4 linked regions of the Homo sapiens genome follow. The protein of the gene in region 3 purifies or fractionates together with the protein of the main gene of each other region. This does not show direct contact. Each region holds a gene or a part of one and is shown on either strand. Other genes may lie near its edges.

The links.
Region 1: the proteins of EEA1 (region 3) and TOM1 fractionate together in Homo sapiens (co-fractionation; one study listed by IntAct). This does not show direct contact.
Region 2: the proteins of EEA1 (region 3) and GRHL2 fractionate together in Homo sapiens (co-fractionation; one large-scale study listed by BioGRID). This does not show direct contact.
Region 4: the proteins of EEA1 (region 3) and AIF1L purify together in Homo sapiens (affinity purification with mass spectrometry; one large-scale study listed by BioGRID and IntAct). This does not show direct contact.

What each region holds. Positions count from the first base shown.
Region 1 is NC_000022.11:35,323,894-35,327,393, reverse strand, and holds part of TOM1 (target of Myb1 membrane trafficking protein), read right to left. Parts: coding exon 3,480-3,500; intron 124-3,479; coding exon 7-123; intron 1-6.
Region 2 is NC_000008.11:101,663,439-101,666,832, forward strand, and holds part of GRHL2 (grainyhead-like protein 2 homolog), read left to right. Parts: intron 1-1,015; coding exon 1,016-1,080; intron 1,081-3,150; coding exon 3,151-3,265; 3' UTR 3,266-3,394. UniProt on the Homo sapiens protein: Transcription factor playing an important role in primary neurulation and in epithelial development. Binds directly to the consensus DNA sequence 5'-AACCGGTT-3' acting as an activator and repressor on distinct target genes.
Region 3 is NC_000012.12:92,775,796-92,779,295, reverse strand, and holds part of EEA1 (early endosome antigen 1), read left to right. Parts: coding exon 1-181; intron 182-1,116; coding exon 1,117-1,355; intron 1,356-1,359; exon of another isoform or gene 1,360-1,498; intron 1,499-1,612; exon of another isoform or gene 1,613-1,632; coding exon 1,633-1,753; intron 1,754-2,353; coding exon 2,354-2,452; intron 2,453-3,162; coding exon 3,163-3,285; 3' UTR 3,286-3,500. UniProt on the Homo sapiens protein: Binds phospholipid vesicles containing phosphatidylinositol 3-phosphate and participates in endosomal trafficking.
Region 4 is NC_000009.12:131,117,031-131,120,530, forward strand, and holds part of AIF1L (allograft inflammatory factor 1-like), read left to right. Parts: intron 1-725; coding exon 726-888; intron 889-3,204; coding exon 3,205-3,292; 3' UTR 3,293-3,500. UniProt on the Homo sapiens protein: Actin-binding protein that promotes actin bundling. May neither bind calcium nor depend on calcium for function.

The sequences.
Region 1 (3,500 bases), on a different chromosome or scaffold from region 3:
GCTCACCTGCAGCAGCTCCAGGTCTGCGGGCTCGGCCTGGGTGGGCACCAGCTCCGTCAGCATCTCCGACATCACCCTCACGTTCCCACTCACCATCTCCAGCTCACTGCGCAGCTTCCCAATCTGAAACACACAGTTGATCGTGGTGAGAGAAGCCAGGGTTCTGGGGCCCATGTTACTCACAGCGACAGAACCCAGTACCACCAACCCTGGGTGCAGCACCAGGGAGCCGACCTCCCAGCAGCCTCTCTAGGCAGCCTCCCTCCTGGCTCCCAAAGTGACAGCTCTGCACTAGAGGCCTGCCCCACCCCTTCTACAGACCCCTCACAGAGGCGCTACCAACCGTTACCATCTCCACACCGGAATGAGCCACCACGTGTGGCTGGAAGACTCCAGCATCTCCTGGGTCTAACACAGCAGCTAACAAGGCCCTGGAGGGTGGCTCCCCACAAGGCGGGGAGGGACGCTGCAGGCCCTCTCTCTCTCTCCCACTAGAGGACTGGGATTCTGCCCTCTCTCTCTCCTCCTAGAGGACTGGGATTCCGCCCTCTCTCCTAGAAGACTGGGATCCCCCCCTCTCTCTCCTCCTAGAGGACTGGGATCCCACCCTCTCTCCTCCTAGAGGACTGGGATCCCGCCGTCTCTCTCCTCCTAGAGGACTGGGATCCCGCCCTCTCTCCTCCTAGAGGACTGGGATTCCGTCCTCTCTCTCTCCTCCTAGAGGACTGGGATTCCACCCTCTCTCTCCTCCTAGTGGACTGGGCTTCTGCCCTCTTTCTCCTCCTAGTGGACTGGGATTTTGTCCTGTTTCTGGTCTATTTTGGTGTCCCAGGCTCATCTAAGGATAGTCCTTGCCCTGTACCCCACCTTGAATATGAAACTCAGATTTAGCACTTGTTCCAAGGGATGTGGGCAGGTTTTCAATGGTCAAAGGGTTCCAAGGAGTTGGGCTTGGGGAAACATTTTCAATAAAGCTGCAGTCTCCTCAAAGAGGTTAGCTTGTGAAAGGCCATTGGTATAAGGATCTTATGCTGTGGGACCTTGTAGGGTGTTTAATGCCCTCATGCACACTGGGAATGCCTGGGAAAAGATCAGTCTGAAAGCTTCTAAGATTTATTTGACTGAAGAACCTTTTTATGTTTTGAGAAATGCTGGTACATTCTAAATCATGTGGCTGAGTTATAGTTGATTTCAGAGTGTCACTATATACATTCATGATTGTGACAGCAGCTACCATTTATAGACTACCTAATAAGTGCCAAGCATTGAACATATATTGCTAACTTAATTTTTTACCATGGTAGACATCAATATCCCTGCTTTTATAGATGAAGAAATGGAGTGTAGAGACTAGTAGTATATCCACTATGGTTCACTGACACCTTCCAAAACCTGCAAAATGTTTGATCTATTTGGCTTACTTAATGAACACTCTTGGTATGAGTGAGTGGAAAAACTACTGATCACAAACCCCATGTATCCAAATCAGATGGGACTTAATTACAGAGGAGTCTGGGAGTAACATCACTGCACACCTGATGTCTTAACATGTCCCAAGAGACAAAAGGGGACTCTCGAATTAAACAAAGATTAGTTTTGTTTAGCAAGCACCTTCTTGCATTGGAAGTAATTAGCGTCTTAATCCACACAGATGCTAGACTTCAGAAAATTGGTTAAAATCATAACTGAGTTAGACAATCACAAGGTGGTTTTACAATTTTTTACACACCTTTAACCCACTCAGAAAAAAAAAGTGCAGCTCGCTGTCAGCACTCATTTAATTTTACATAAACATGCTCTTTGAGGCTGAAGTAAACCTGACTGATTTTCAACATGAAAATAAAACATAAAAACTGTTCTTGGAGTTATTTCTAAACAGAACTTGTCTCCAATCCTAACGTAACAGAAATGTATATGAGGTTACATTAGGATTAGAGACAAGAGTATTCTTGGGGCAAACGGGCAGTGCGTTAATAATTTTGTCCAGTTAGCAAAATTTTCTAGTAATATCTGTAACTCTGAGGGGTGATTTCATAACTTGCTATGAGAAAACAAATCATGGAAGTTTCTCTTCAAATAGGTTAGGGTGAGAATGAGTTCAAATGATACAAAAAGTGGGCAGTGGGGACGCTTATTGGGAAAGTTAAGCTTCACTTTTCTTTCCATCACACATCCGTGTCTAACTCACCAGCACACTCAGCAGCTCCACCTTTACGCTCCGCGGATGTGATGGGCCTGATGTGTGTACAACACCTTTAACGTGGGTGTCTCCACAGTGTGCAGGCCTCTGCCCCCACCCCAGCAGCCAAAAGTCTAGAATGACAAGCCCCCAGCTCTACGAGCTGGTCATGGCTGTAGAAGTCACTCAGCAGATACAGCAGCCATGGCACTCCACAAGCAGCTCATGGCCCAGTGGGCCATGAGGAGGAAGGAAGTGACATGCCCAGGGTGCCACCTGCTCTGAGGTGGGTAATCCTTCAAAGCTAGTCAGAGGGCTGGGAAAACCTGTCCCCTAGAATCTCATACTAAGCCTCAAACCTTCTTGGCTGGGTGTGGTGGCTCATGCCTGTAATCCCAGCACTTTAGGAGGCCAAGACGAGTAGATCACTTGAGCTCAGGAGTTCGAGACTAGCCTGGCCAACATGATGAAACTCCATCTCTACTAAAAATACAAAAAATTAGCTGGGCATGGTGGCTCATGCCTGTAGTCCCAGCTACTCAGGAGGCTGAGGCAGGAGAATTGCTTGAACCTGGGAGAGAGAGGTTGCAGTGAGCCTAGATGGTGCCACTGCACTCCAGCCTGGGTGACAGAGCAAGACTGTTTCAGAACAAACAAAAAAGCTTCAGACCTTCTTGAGACTTCATGGGAAGCAGCATGGTACAATGTACATATGTTTTTTATTTTTTGCACAGATGTTTGAAAACTTTTCAGGCAGAACCTCTCTTCAAATGAAGCCTTTTTTTTTTTTTTTTTTTTTTTTGAAACAGGTCTCTCTATGTTGCCCAGCCTGGTCTCAAACTCCTGGGCTCAAGCCATCCTCCTGCCTGAACCTTTGAGAAGCTAAGATCACAGACGCACGTGACCATGCCCAGCTCAAATGAAAGCTGTGAGTGTGTAAGAAACCACACAGGTGGAGCTGGCCTGAAGGGGCTGCGTACAGGACACCTCTCCATGGTGCTGTTGGAGGGCCCCGCAGAAAACACAGGTTGGAAAATGGCCAAGGTACAGGGCAGTGCCTGCCAGGAGTCAGACAGACGTGAGCTTGGATCCCAACTGTCTCTGATGACTGTGTGCTCTGGGCAAGTGAATGGACCTCTCTGAGTCTCATCGCTCAAACAGGAAGAACCACACATACCCTGTGGGCTGCTGTGAGGAAGAAGTGGAGGCTCCGTGGATGGTAAATTCTGACAGGGGGCCCTCCCTGACGTGTGTGGCCCACCTGCCTGGACCTGACGGTTCTGACCCCAGGCTCGTTTACCTGTTCCGGGGTTGGTGCTAT
Region 2 (3,394 bases), on a different chromosome or scaffold from region 3:
CCATCTCTACTAAAAATACAAAAATTAGCCAGGTGTGGTGGCACTCACCTGTAGTCCCAGCTACTCAGGAGGCTGAGGCAGGAGAATCACTTGAACCTGGGAGGCAGAGGTTGCAGTGAGCCGAGATCATGCCACTGCACTCCAGCCTGGGAACCAGAGCAAGATTCCATCTCAAAAAATAAATAAATAAATAAATAAATAAATAAAAATAAAAGTAGTATCCTACTTTGCTTTAATTTGAAAATTTTAAATTATGACTGTGTGGTGCATTTTTTTATATGCTCATTGTCCAATTATTTTTCTTCCGTGAATTGCTTCTTCAGGATTTTTCTTCCTTTGCCCATTGAATTGCTGATCTTTTTCTTGATTTGCAGGAGTTCTTTTTAACTTAAGGAAGTTAGTTCCATGTCTGTCATTTCTGTTGCAAAAATGTTTCCCAGTGTATTTTTTTGTCTTTAGCATTTTAGTTTTTTTTTTTCTGTACTGCGTTTTTAAAGTTGTGTTGTTTTTATTAACCTTTCGACCTTTTTCTTTAGGTTTCATGTCTTGCTTAGAAAGATCTTCCTTACTTTAAGATGACAGCTGTCCAAAAAATTAACTCATGGTTTCTTCCTCTACTTTTATGGTTTCATCTTTCACATGTAAATCTTTGATCTGTATCAAATGTATTTTGGTGTAAGGAGTGGAGAAGGAATCCAATATAACTTGTTAAATTTTTTTCTAGATGGCTACTATTTCATCCAACATCATAGTTACAGTCCATCTTTTTCTGACTGACCTGGAACGCTACTTTTATCATAGATTGAATTCCCATGAGGCTGGGTTTTTTGTTGAATGATTTAAAGTCTATCCAAAGGGAGAGGCTCATAAATGAGTGTTTTGAGAGTTCGACTCATGAGTGAAGAGCACTCTATCCCTGGGAAAATGTCCAAGGGAGTGAAACTGGAACTTTCCCCCTTGCCTCCAGTTGGGCGTCCTTCTGTGCTCATCTGCCTTCTTGTTATTGGTATTACAGATATCTGAGAAATATGGGCTGCCCGTGGAGAAGATAGCAAAGCTTTACAAGAAAAGCAAAAAAGGGTAAGAAAGAAACTGAACTTAAATTGACTTTCAAATCAGATAAATCCACATGATGCCTTAAAAATAAAATGATGCCTGTCTTTTGTTAGGTCTGTTGCCCACTTTTCATAAAAATTGTGTCCTTCTTCCAGAGAATTGCAGAGGAGATTGCATTTGGAAGATCTTTAGGAGAGAGGGAGGGAGGGAGGCAGTGCACTGGCACTATGTCAACTGAGATGCCTATTTCAATGACAAGACAAGCAGGAAGACCACAGAGGTCTGGAGGTGCTGTGGACACTGGGGAGAATGGCAAAATCACCTTTCTGCAGGGAGTGGAGTTTATAGGGAATCACGTATGGCCCTTGGGGTTGGTTTCTGGGTGGCATACTAGGAACAAAAAATGGTTTGGAACATAGGGGATTCCTCTAAGGTAATTATCAAGAAAATGTTCTCAAATGATCATTGGACCTGTGTGTTCTCATTGTTAAGAACAACAGGTCATATTTACTGGGTGTTCAGTAGGTTTGGGGTCCCTTCCTAAGTACTTTACATGTATTCCTCTATTTAGTTCTCACCACTTTATGAGGTGGAATCTCTTATCGCTGATTTATTGATGAAGAAAGCAAGCCAGAGGGGGCTTAAGCATGTCGCCCAAGTCTCATGTTCAGTAGGTAGAGGACAGATTTGAACCCATCTGTGTCCTCAAAGCTCAAGTGCTTAGCTTCCACGTTCTGCCGTCTGACTTTCTGTGTGGGCTTCCTATGTGTGACGGTCTAAGAGTAGGGGCCACAGGAGCTAGTGGAAGTGCCAGGAGAGGGTATCTGTTGACTCAGCTTCTGGGGTATTTTCCTACAAAAGGCAGAAGATGAGTCAACTCTTCTCCGGATCACTTTCATAAAGGAAATTGGATTATCTGGGAAGCTCAGGCTTTCTGAGTGATGAGTCCTGTTGGTTGATTGGAGGATCTGACAGGAAACCCTTTCCACCTGAGCTCTTGTTGGAAGATTCACTAAAATGCACGTTATACTTCTTGCCGAGGTCAATGTAGTAGGCTGGGTGTATTACTGACAGTGAGATTTCAGTCGTGTCTCACAGTCTTATTGCCGAGCAGAAATCCTCAGTGCAGAGGTACATGCTGATGATAACATTTTGCTTTCATCAAGCTCTGTATCAGGTGTTGTGCTAAATGTTTTTATCATAAAAACAATCCGTTAAAGCTAAGTGACTGTTCTTATTTTTACAGGAGGATAAACTGAGGCTCTGAAAGGCTAAACAGCTTGCCTGCTGACACATAACTGTAAAATGATAGAGTCAGTCAGTGGTTCATTCTCAAACCAGCATCTGTCTGACTTCAAATCATGAAATTGGCTTAAGGAAATTATGGAAGTCTCTGGAAGCTGTTGGCTTTCTTAAAACTCTATCAGGGATAGTTAGCCACAGGAGTAGGTCACAGGTGGTAAAGTACAAGTGTCAGAATGAGGTAAAGCTAATTTCAAAATCAAGCTCAGCCATGTGCTAACTGAATGAACTTGGGGAAACAATTTAACCTTGTTGAGGTCAGTTTTCTCATTTGCAAAATGGCAATGACACCTACCTTCACAGTTGCTGTGAGAACTAAACACAAGGTCATATTACATGCTCAAAAAAGGGTAGCTGCAATTCTTGCTTGTTTTCCTCTTCCTCCTAAGAGCAGAGGCAATGCATTTTTAAAAATGCATTTTCAAGGGCAACATGGTTTACTGAAAAGAGTTAGAGAGAGAGCCTAATGATTTAGGTTCTGGCCCTGGTAATCAGTAACTGTGATTCTGGGCTTCCTAACTTCCCTGGGCCTCAGTTTACTCATCTATAATGCAAGCGGTTTGGGTTGAATGTTAGTTCTGAGAAATTGAGGCTTTGCTTTCCTCAAACTAGTTTTTGGGCAAAGAAAACAGAATGAGGGTCTTTCCCTGCCTTGTGTCCTCTCTCCTCCACTCCTCCCAGCCTCCACCACAAAAGAATGGCTACGAGAACCCCCAGCCTGGAGCTCCCCTTGCCCTGGGCACATTGTTCACGGCGTCTTTGTTTTTCACACCCCTCCCCCCTCCATGGCAGCATCTTGGTGAACATGGATGACAACATCATCGAGCACTACTCGAACGAGGACACCTTCATCCTCAACATGGAGAGCATGGTGGAGGGCTTCAAGGTCACGCTCATGGAAATCTAGCCCTGGGTTTGGCATCCGCTTTGGCTGGAGCTCTCAGTGCGTTCCTCCCTGAGAGAGACAGAAGCCCCAGCCCCAGAACCTGGAGACCCATCTCCCCCATCTCACAACTGCTGTTACAAGACCGTGCTG
Region 3 (3,500 bases):
AACAAATCTTAAAGATGCTAAACAGCTTCTAATTCAGCAGAAATTAGAACTTCAAGGAAAAGCGGACTCCCTGAAGGCAGCTGTTGAACAGGAGAAGAGAAATCAGCAGATACTAAAAGACCAGGTGAAAAAGGAAGAAGAGGAGCTGAAGAAAGAATTTATTGAGAAAGAAGCTAAGTTGGTCAGTGAGTTAATCGGGGGAAGTGTGTTTTGCAGTAGAGCTTTAAATCAATCCAGTGAGAGGACTGTTCTACTTATAAGATCTGATTGAAATGCTTTCCTAACATTTTAGTTTTTGATTAAGGAAGGAGATCTGATTTATTTACATAGCTGACATGTGGTTGGAAATATTTTACCCTGTAACCATAATTCTGTTTTTATAAGTGAACATTGAAATGAAATAAAATTAAAAAATTTTTTTTGTTTTTTAAGTGTCAGAAGCTAAACAACCCCACAACTACGTAGATCTGGTAAATGGTGTGAATGCTAGTCATGTTAAACCCATTTGTTGGGTCAAAACGAATGTTGATAAGGGGGAGCGGAAACTTGAGTTTGAAATTATGATGAACAAAGTCTGCTTTTCCTTTCCTAAGTTGCACATGCCAAATGGGAAGCATCTGGCTTTCCTCTGTTGAATTAAGTCCAAATATGCCCAGATAACTTGGCCATTGAATATTTTAGTTGAAGAGTTTCAATTTTAACTTCAAACAGTCATTTGAAGGTTTCATAATGGTTTTTGGCAGACTGATAGAGAAAAGAAAGCATATGGAATTGGGACGAATAAGGAAATTTCAGCTTTGTCTCTAGGGCACCTTGCTATCCCTAACCATATGTGTCTTTCCTGCTCTGGTGGAGAAGAAGAAAGATCTCACATTGTGTCACTTTAGCTCACCATCATGATGGTCACTATCCATCATTTCAGCATTTTGACCTTTGAGCCAATTCATATTACATAGATGCTTGTGGAATCAGTTTTATTAATGTGTAATGAAATATGTTCTCCTGCCTCCATTCCCGAAGAAGCAAATTGCCAGTATTTTAAATGTAATAAATCACTTACATTTATTTTGCACTACTTTTGTAATAGATTTCCCCCCAACTTTTCCTTTTTTTCAGCATTCCGAAATAAAAGAAAAGGAAGTAGGAATGAAGAAGCATGAAGAAAATGAGGCTAAACTTACCATGCAGATTACAGCATTAAATGAAAACTTAGGCACTGTGAAGAAGGAGTGGCAATCTAGTCAACGGAGAGTTAGTGAGCTTGAGAAACAAACGGATGACTTACGGGGTGAAATTGCAGTATTAGAAGCAACGGTTCAGAATAATCAAGATGAAAGGAGAGCACTACTGGAAAGGTGATTGATATCTAGTAAAATTAGTTTATTTCCATTGTAAGTGATAAAAAGATTGTCATATTCCATAGTTTTTAAAAATAGAAGAATCTTGAGAAAAGTGCATAAGCCTCTATAGGTATTTAAGTAGCCATTTAAAAATTAACCTGTAAAACAATCAGATAGTCAAAATTAATGTATCATATATTTTAAATTACTAAAGTAGTCCATTATCTATACCCTAGAAGGGTCTTTAAATGATTTTCTAAAAAATTAATTACCTCTTTGCAATCTATTCCAGATGTCTTAAAGGAGAAGGTGAAATAGAAAAGCTTCAAACCAAAGTATTAGAATTGCAAAGAAAGCTGGATAATACAACTGCAGCAGTGCAGGAGCTGGGCAGAGAAAACCAATCACTTCAGGTCAGTCACCTATGGATATGAAGCAGTTTTTTAGTCTAGAATTGGCTTATTAGTGAAAAGCATATTTTTACCTTTTAAAAAATCTCATGTTTTATAAATACTTTCAAATAGCTACTCTCTGTTTAGCAGTATTGTAGGTTTTGTGGATAATTAAATATAAAAGTAAAGAACTTGTTTCAGAGACCTCAGAGATTCATTAGAAAGCCATGTCATTCATTAATTGTTAGTATATGGAAAGAACTACAAAATTCAAGAATACCAAAGAATATATGAGTCAGTATGTGTTAAAGAAGCGATCTGAGTATATTCTCAGAGTCACCAGGGAAAATTCATCATTATGTTTAGAATGGATTGGAAATCAGCAAAGGTTAGCAAGATATTTCAGGAATAAAATTCAATTAATTTTATTTTGTCATTCAGATTTATGAGTATAGCTACTTTTGACAATAGAAGCTGACCAGTGTATTTCTGATTTTTAAAATTTTATTTCATGGGTCATATAGTCAAAATTTTATAGAACTCTGGCAGCAAGTTAGAAATAATCTAGCATTCTTTAAAATGTTGAATACTATAATATATCGATACTTCTTTAAAAAACAGATCAAACATACACAAGCGTTGAATAGAAAGTGGGCCGAAGACAATGAAGTACAAAACTGTATGGCCTGTGGGAAAGGCTTTTCAGTAACAGTGAGACGGGTAAATAATTTTGTTCATGTAACTATGTTTCTGGATTTCATTTGTCACTGATAATTAATGTTTTAACCATCAAAATAGTCCTTCATTTGACAGAATAATTTTCTGTTTATCAGTAAACTTTAACAACAACATAGAATAACTTCATGCAGTCTAGCTTTTGGTTAGCATATGTGTTTGAATTTTACTTTTAAATTCAGTCCTTGTCTTCCAACTTAGTTACTGTCTGGGACAATCATTTTCTGAATCAGTGCACCAATATTAAACTCATGTTTTAGTAATCATTGGGTTCTTTAAAGGAAGAAAAAGCAGAGGTATTTTAAAAATATATTCTAAATACTACCATTGTGTTAATGACTTAAGTTTATATTTCTTTTGGAGACATTAGTGCCTGAAACATTTGGCAAATAGGAATAGTTTTTCATTTGATAGAGATACTTTATAAAAACTTTTTAAATGCCTCCTCTGGTTCTTTTGAGAGTTCCATAATAAATTCTATGTAAAATGTTTAGCATAGTGTTTGATAAATAGGAAGCATTCAATTTAATTATAACAGAGATTAAGTTAACATATTGAAACATATCATTAAATAATATACCAATGACTTGAAAGCTAATGTACCTTCATAATGTAGTTGGTGGTATTCATGTAGTTTCATAATACTTTTGGTATAGTTTTTATTCTTGAAATTGTTTAATTTTTGTCATTTACAGCATCACTGCCGACAGTGTGGAAATATCTTCTGTGCTGAATGTTCAGCCAAAAATGCCTTAACTCCTTCCTCCAAGAAGCCTGTTCGTGTCTGTGATGCATGTTTCAATGACTTGCAAGGATAATGGGTTATCACAACTTCAGAGTAATATTACACTAACATTAGATTTTTAATAAATGTACTTAATAGAGGTCTTGGACTACTATTTGGTTTGGACACTGGTTGCAATACTAGACCAAATAGGAATTAGTATATTTTGGAATGTTATGGATATCAAGTAAAACTCTTCTATTTTTGTGAGACTTGGGCTTATCATCTTTCATTACTTTTTTCCCATTT
Region 4 (3,500 bases), on a different chromosome or scaffold from region 3:
TCCAAAGGAAATTGCCTCAGATCTTGGTGGGAGCTGGGCGGTCAGAGACAGCACCGCCTCGGGCTGGAGTGACATTCTGGGGCCTCCCTTGTTTTTCTTGAATTTTGTTCTTTTGTTGGTTTTCCTGCTCTGTGGGATATTTTTGGCATCCTCTCCCTTCCAGCCGGGGCAGAGCCCTAGGACAGCAGGACAGGAGTGGCACGTGGGGAGAAGCCACCTGCCACTCGGCACCCAGCAGAGTTACTTTCAATGCCTGACTTCCTGACCCTGCCACACTGGGCATAACTCCCCAGGCAGCAGGAGAGTGGGCACCCAGCCCACCCTAACTGCAGGAAATAGCAGAGCCCACAGTCATGGTGTGAAGAAAGTGCTCTGGGCCGGTGCTTCCTGCACAGAGATCCCTGAATGATCCCATCCACCCGTTCCACCGTTGGTGGGAGCAGGGGTTCAGAGAGGTTAAGTAGTGTGCCCCAGATCCCAGAGCCAGGAATAGCAGAGCTCGATTCCAATGCAAGCCCGTCTGACTCTAGAAGCCCAGGTCACTAACCACTAGCCTATACGGCCTCCAAAGAGAGCAGGGAGGGCGTGATGGGCTCCTCCTCCCTAGAGAAGGAGTGCAGACGCCAAGTTTCTAGGCGTGGGGTGCCTGAGTGGAGCTTTCCCAGCTTCCCTGCTAAGCCCCAGCAGCCCATCTCCACTTAACAGATCTGCTTTTCCCCCGGCAGACCTGATGTCTTTAAAGAGGATGATGGAGAAGCTTGGTGTCCCCAAGACCCACCTGGAGATGAAGAAGATGATCTCAGAGGTGACAGGAGGGGTCAGTGACACTATATCCTACCGAGACTTTGTGAACATGATGCTGGGGAAACGGTCGGCTGTCCTCAAGTTGTGAGTACCTCCTTCCTCCCTTGGGATCTCTGAAGGCAAAATCATTCTGTGCAGAGAGGCCCCTGGCTCTGGGCACCCCAGCCATTCCCCACCTAGTAGGTAACTCATTGTGCGACCTGCTGGACAAGGTACTTACTTCTCCTGATCCTGATTTCCTTATCTGTCAATTGTTTGTTTGTTTTTTTTTCTTTTGAGATGGAGTCTTACTCTATTGCCCAGGCTGGAGTGCAGTGGTGTGATCTTGGCTCACTGCAACCTCCGCCTCCTGGGTTCAAGTGATTCTTCTGCCTCAGCCTCCCTAGTAGCTGAGATTACAGGCATGCACCACTATGCTTGGCTAATTTTTGTATTTTTAGAAGAGACGGGGTTTTGCCATGTTGGCCAGGCTAGTCTCAAACTCCTGACCTCAGGTAATCTGCCCTCCTCAGCCTCCCAAAATGTTAGGATTATAGGCGTGAGCCACCACACCCGGCCCAAATGGTCATATTAATATGTACCCTGTAGGGGAAATTAGCTTGTAGCAGAGTCAGGCAGAATCAGTACTCAGTAAGTGGCAACTGTGATGATGATGATGGTGGTGATGGTGATAATGGTGATAAATCTGTTGAAACTTTCCGAGCCTTAGTTTTCCTTTTTTTTTTTTTTCTTTTTGAGATCTCGCTCTGTCACCCAGGCTGGAGTGCAGTGACATGATCTCAGCTCACTGCAACCTCCGCCTCCTGAGCTCAAGTGATTCTCCTGCCTCAGCCTCCCGAGTAGCCAGGATTACAGGTGTGCGCCACCACACCCAACTAATTTTTGTATTTTTAGTAGAAATGGGGTTTCGCCATGTTGGCCAGGTTGGTCTCAAACTCCTGACTTCCAAGAGATCAGACCCCCTCGGCCTCCCAAAGTGCTAGGATTACAGGCGTGAGCCACCATGCCTGGCAGTTTCCCCATTTGTAAAGCACCTCCACTACCCCCACAGGCTTGTAAGCATAAAATAGAGTCAAAAATTGGCCCCAAAGGGAGGCAGGGTTTGCATCTTGATGCTATTACTTGCTACCAAAATGACCCTGGGCAAGTTACCTTAGGTCTGCGAGTCTCAGTTTCTTCATCTATAAAATAGGGGTGATAATCATGTCTTCCGTGATGTCCTGAGGGCTAGTGAAATGACACTTATGAAGATTTCAGCCTTGTGTGGCTGATGGCAAACACCTACTACGTGGTAGCACATTGTGGGTGCTGCCCCATTGAAGAGCGTTACAGCATTGCCCCAGGGCAGTCTCATTGTCATTTGTCACAGCTGAAAATAACACTCTGCCAGGTGCCCTGGCTCACGCCTTTAATCCCAGCGCTTCGGGAGGCTGAGGCCGGTGGATCACCTGAGGTCAGGAGTTCGAGACTAGCCTGGTCAACATGGTGAAACCCCGTTTCTACTAAAAATACAAAAATTAGCTGGGTGTTGTGGCTCACGCCTGTAATCCTGGCTACTCGGGAGGCTGAGGCAGGAGAATCACTTGAGCCCAGGAGGCGGAGGTTGCAGTGAGCAGAGATCGTGACATTGCCCTCCAGCCTGGGCGGCAAGAACAAAACTCTGTCTCAAAAGAAAAAAAAAAAAAAAAAGAAAACAGAAAATAACACTTACTTGGCTTTTATGAAATAAGATTCACTTTTTTAAAGTACGAATGTAAAATATACCTGTCTCATTTTACAAAGGAGCTTGTTGAGGCCCAAGGAGACTGAGTACCTGGCCCATGAGCCCACGGTCCAATCTGGCCAGATCTTCTAGCACCCCACTTCCAGGGAGAAACGCCAAGGATCAGAGAGGTCAAGTGTCTTGCTTGAGCCACCCGGCTGGGAAGTAGCAGGGCTGGCATTTGAATCTAGGCAGTTGCCCTAGAGGTTATACGCTGAGCCCCTACCCTCTACTCCCCAGACACCACTCTCAGAGCAGTGGGCAGGTTTTTGAAGATCTTTGCGCAGAGGCGTGGCCCAGCCTGGCTCAGCCTCCTCCAGGCAGTGTGGTTAAGGGAAGGGTATGGCCTGGAAGTCAGAAGCCTGGAGTCGTACCCAGCCTCTGCCCTGGACCGCCTGTGTGGTTCTGAGGAGTCATATCACCACTTTGCGCCTCCATTTTCTCCTCTGTAAAATGGGACTAGCAGCCCCTTCCTTGGAGCTGCTGTCTTGGGCTTCTGCAAGGATCCCACTGGAGAACAGATTTAAATTCTGTTGAGGACCCTGCTGACATGAGGCTGGGATGATCTTTCCCTGGATGAGGGAAGGATCCTAATCTTGTTTTTCTTTCTTTTTTTCTTTTCTCCATCTCCAAACCAGAGTCATGATGTTTGAAGGAAAAGCCAACGAGAGCAGCCCCAAGCCAGTTGGCCCCCCTCCAGAGAGAGACATTGCTAGCCTGCCCTGAGGACCCCGCCTGGACTCCCCAGCCTTCCCACCCCATACCTCCCTCCCGATCTTGCTGCCCTTCTTGACACACTGTGATCTCTCTCTCTCTCATTTGTTTGGTCATTGAGGGTTTGTTTGTGTTTTCATCAATGTCTTTGTAAAGCACAAATTATCTGCCTTAAAGGGGCTCTGGGTCGGGGAATCCTGAGCCTTGGGTCCCCTCCCTC